Linked DNA regions of Homo sapiens: region 1 is linked to region 2. Evidence: fine-mapped expression QTL. Tissue or cell type: whole blood. Region 2 holds a variant in brackets; the other region holds the start of a gene. All regions are shown on one strand. Distances are from middle to middle. Region 1 holds the start of CCR3 (C-C motif chemokine receptor 3). Region 2 overlaps CCR1 (C-C motif chemokine receptor 1).

The links. PIP is the estimated chance that this variant, and not a neighbour inherited with it, causes the effect.
Region 1: it holds the start of CCR3, and the variant in region 2 is fine-mapped to the expression of CCR3 in whole blood (TOPMed, PIP above 0.99).

The regions. Positions count from the first base shown.
Region 1 is chr3:46,240,923-46,243,422 of GRCh38, reverse strand. It overlaps CCR3 (C-C motif chemokine receptor 3), which reads right to left and starts at 963. Exons shown (of 2, transcript NM_178329.3): 1 at 885-963.
Region 2 is chr3:46,203,458-46,205,957 of GRCh38, reverse strand. It overlaps CCR1 (C-C motif chemokine receptor 1), which reads left to right. Exons shown (of 2, transcript NM_001295.3): 2 at 1,634-2,500. The coding sequence starts at 1,645. Among named protein-coding and RNA genes, the nearest start is that of CCR1, 3.6 kb to the left of the region's middle. The variant G/A (reference allele first, on the strand shown) is at 1,222.

The DNA.
Region 1 (2,500 bases), 37 kb before region 2:
TAAATATATATATTTCCACACATACATACTTAATGCACACACACATATGTATATAATCAGCCCTCTGTATCCATGGGTTCCACATTTGTGTATTCAACCAATCACGGATCAAAAATATCTGGGAAAAAGCTCCACAAAGTTGCAAAAACCAAGCCTTGAATTTGCCACGCAGCAAGTGCTATGTTGACTCCACATGAATGAAGCGCTCTGTATGCGTTGTATTAGGTATTACAAGTAATCTAGGTACTTGTATTTAAAGGGTACTGGAGGATATTTGTAGGTTATCAGCAAATACTACATCATTTTATATAAGGAACTTGAGCATCTATGAATTTTGGTATCTGCAAGGGTCCTGGAACAAATCCCTCACAGATACTGAGGGAGGACTTTGTATATATAAAAATGTATGTGTGTGTGCGTATATATATATATATATATATGTGTATATATATATATATACACATATATATGTAAAATTATATTTTTGCTATTTCTTACAAGTCAATATAAATAAACACAAGCTATTAAGTGTAAGCTCTTTGGAGTAGTCATATGCACATAGTTGAGAATTTGTGAAAGTATAGGAGGGTAACATGGGCACAGATGTTGACTAAAGAGGTATAAAGGGCCAAGTTTGGGTGAGTGCTACACGCAAACTTATCATTGTGTGGATGGGAGACAGAAAGGGAAAATTAGAAAAAGCAAGAAGAAAATGGAGATATGTGGCCATATTTTCTCCCACTCTGGCCCCATACTACCTCTAAATTGCTGTGTACCTTCCTCTCCTCCCTCCTAGATCCAAGAGCACTGCTGGAAGTTACTACTTCCACCTGCCTGGACCCCTCCTTGTTCCACCTCCCTTTTCCTGGAAAAGCGACACCTACCTGAAAATCTCTTCTAAGTAAAAACTTCTATTGTATTTCGATAAGTTCTTGCCCGGATAAGCACAAGAAGACCAGTGGTACCTGCTAATTTAGTGAAGTCCTTGATATGTCCAGTGATAGCTTAGGCGTCACCACTCCTGAAACAGAGATACCATCAGATCACAGACATTAGTAAAGTAGTAAACAATGTAAGTATATAACTTCCTGTTTTAAACAGACTAGCTTCTCAGTTTTGCAAGTTTTCAGAAAGATACTTTCGTGCAGTTCTTCTTTTTCATGATTGACACCACATACTAACCAGTCACCTGAGAAATCCTTGCAATTAGTGCTGCTTTAGGGGCTCTCCACCCATTGGCATTGCTCATTTTTAGTGGTGGGGGGTTGTTATAATTTTTTTTTTTTTTTTAAGACAGGATTTCATTCTGTCACCCAGGCTGGAGTACAGTGGCATGATCTCAGTTCACTGCAACCTCCACCTCCTGGGTTCAAGGGATTTTCCTGCCTCAGCCTCTGGAATAGTTGGTATTAGAGGCACATGCCACCATGCCTGGCTAATTTTTGTATTTTTAGTAGAGACAGGGTTTCACCATGTTGGCCAGGCTGGTCTCAAACTTCTGACCTCAAGTGATCTGCGAGTCTCGGCCTCCTAAAGACCTGGGATTTATAATTCTTGAATAAGCATTGATTTGACTCATCGGGAGACAGGATGAAGAATGAAATAAGAATTTCCCGGCAAAGGAATAAACTAATTATTCTGCAGGGTCCAGTAGACACTTGGATGGGGCAAAATGTGGCTGCAAAGGTTTAGACAAGTCTAAAAGACTTGAGTTTGAGTTTCAGTTGTGGCATACACAGCTACATAAGCTGGGGGTAGTAATTTAAACTTGCTGGACCTCAGCTTTTTCATCTCTAAACTGGAAATAATGATATTTAAGTCATAGCATTGCCGTGGAACCAACTAAGATAAATATGTGAAAAGTCTCTGCAGAATATACAGGGCTAAGGAAATGTAAAGTGTGGGTAGAATGCCACTGTGACATAAGCGTCATAGGGCAGAGCCATGTCTCAGGGCAAAGCGTCACAGGGCAGAGCCATGTGCCTGCTGTATGTGCTGATGTGTCCCTTGGGACCTAGCATGGCACTGGGCACAGAGCAGGTATTCACCCAATATTTGTGGGAAGAACTCTGACTAAGCATGAAGTGATCTTTGATACACTGACTAACTCGACAAATGAGTGTAATGCACCAAAGTGTTTATCAAACGTTTGATATGTGTGTAGGACTGTGCTGTATGCTTCATGATAAAGAAAACATAGGAACAAAAGACAAAGAAAGAGGAAGGAGGATAAGAGAGACAGAGAGAGAGAGAGAGCGCACACACATGTGCATTAGAGAGAGAGAGAAAGAATAGGGAGAGAATTTGAGAGAAAGAGAAGAAAGGGAGGAAGGGGCTCAGTTTCCACCTTAAAGAGTCTATAACCTTGTTGGTGATCAGAGACAACAGAGACCTGATAAAATATCAAGAATGCTCAAATATAGTTAAAGCATAACCAAAGAAACATTTCACTATTTAATCTACAGCATATTCAATATAGCATATTCAAATTGGCTAAAAC
Region 2 (2,500 bases):
GGGGTGGGAGACAGGGTATACCAGCCAGCCAGGGACATCCTGGACATTGGTGCCTGGGATGTGCTGGTGGTGTCAGGCCTCAGGGAAGGGCTCCTGCAGTGAAGGAGTTCTCTCAGGGAAGGTCCCCAAGAAAAGTGCCCTGGCCTGGCTCTTGCCAGGCCCTCAATAAGGGGCCTGGCTGTTGCCAGGTGGTGGTGGTGGGAGGGTGATGGTAGCACTTTTCTCATACATTACCTCACAGTAGCCTTGCAAGATAAGAGTTGCTTTCCCACATTACAGATGAGGAATGAAGCTCAGAGAGGTAAAATAATTTATCCAAAGTCACAAAGCTCGTAGGTTACACCAAAGCCAATGCTCCATTTGGGGAGGCATCTTTAATAAGCAACTGGAAAGGATTCAAGTGCCAAAAAAGCAGGGACTGGGAGAAGTCCTACAAAGGCAACCTACAGAGTGATTCTTTTTTGTTTCATTTTTGTTTGCTTTAAGGCATCCGTGGGTAAAAATATCTAAGAGCTTATCTCAGCAGAATTCAGCTAGTCACTGTGTAACATCACCTCATAGCTCCAGACCATTCTGAACTCTTCCTCCCCTGATGCCCAGTTTTCTCTTTTTCTGACCAGGTTACCTCCCCCTTCTCTGCCTGCACTTTCCTCTCCTTCAGGAGGTCTGCAAAGTGACCTTAGATCTACCTGTGCCACCTAAGGACTGTGCAATGTGGGTCAGGCTCAGCCCACTCTGGTGCCCTCAGTGTCCTCATCTCCAAAATAATGGGGTTGACCTACTAGGATTTCACTATGGCAACACCACTGGTGTTTGGGGTAGAATGATCTCTGCACTGTAGGACATCCTTGGCCCTGCCTACCAAATGACGGTAGCATCCCCCAGTTTTGGTGACAACAACAACAAATGCCCACACATTTCCAAGTGCCCCAAGGGTACTAGGTCACTCTCGGCTGAGAATCTTCTTAGACCAAAAGCCATGAATATCTGTTTGTATCTTTCTCTGAGCCAGGACCATTTTCCTTCTCAGAGTCCTCCTGTGGGCTCCACAGTGCAAAGCTACTGCTCGGGGACAGCAGCAGGAAAGCGTAGTGGTGTCAGGGCCGGGCATGAGAATGATGCACAGCTGGGTTGGAGCTCCAGGTCTGTTCTCACAAGAGGTGTGTCCTTGAACATGTTTCCTAACCACTCTGAACCTCTGTTTCATCACCTCTTAAATAA[G/A]AACAACAATGGGACCCCTCCAGGGCTCTTTAACCCTAAGTCCAGTGCCTAGGCCATGGGGGTGCTTAGGAAGTGTTGGTTATGAATAGTATGGTAAGGTCTCCCTCTGGCTTTCCACCCATTGAACTTATCCCTTACAAAACTCTTTGCTGAAATGATTGAATTAATGATTTGTGCACTCATTTACTTATTGCTTCCACTCCCTGTTAGACTAAGATTCCTAGAAGGCAGAGAGGATCTGGGTCTCTCTAACACTCCATTTTGTCCCCAGGGCATGGTACACAGAAGGCACTCAATAAACATTTATGGAGTGGCTGAAAAAATGTTACCTCTCCCTTGTCTTTACTGTCCAGTGCCCACTGCCTTTAGTAGCAGAGTAAAGACAAATCTTTTTTTTTTTTTTAACCTGTAGGAGAAGCCGGGATGGAAACTCCAAACACCACAGAGGACTATGACACGACCACAGAGTTTGACTATGGGGATGCAACTCCGTGCCAGAAGGTGAACGAGAGGGCCTTTGGGGCCCAACTGCTGCCCCCTCTGTACTCCTTGGTATTTGTCATTGGCCTGGTTGGAAACATCCTGGTGGTCCTGGTCCTTGTGCAATACAAGAGGCTAAAAAACATGACCAGCATCTACCTCCTGAACCTGGCCATTTCTGACCTGCTCTTCCTGTTCACGCTTCCCTTCTGGATCGACTACAAGTTGAAGGATGACTGGGTTTTTGGTGATGCCATGTGTAAGATCCTCTCTGGGTTTTATTACACAGGCTTGTACAGCGAGATCTTTTTCATCATCCTGCTGACGATTGACAGGTACCTGGCCATCGTCCACGCCGTGTTTGCCTTGCGGGCACGGACCGTCACTTTTGGTGTCATCACCAGCATCATCATTTGGGCCCTGGCCATCTTGGCTTCCATGCCAGGCTTATACTTTTCCAAGACCCAATGGGAATTCACTCACCACACCTGCAGCCTTCACTTTCCTCACGAAAGCCTACGAGAGTGGAAGCTGTTTCAGGCTCTGAAACTGAACCTCTTTGGGCTGGTATTGCCTTTGTTGGTCATGATCATCTGCTACACAGGGATTATAAAGATTCTGCTAAGACGACCAAATGAGAAGAAATCCAAAGCTGTCCGTTTGATTTTTGTCATCATGATCATCTTTTTTCTCTTTTGGACCCCCTACAATTTGACTATACTTATTTCTGTTTTCCAAGACTTCCTGTTCACCCATGAGTGTGAGCAGAGCAGACATTTGGACCTGGCTGTGCAAGTGA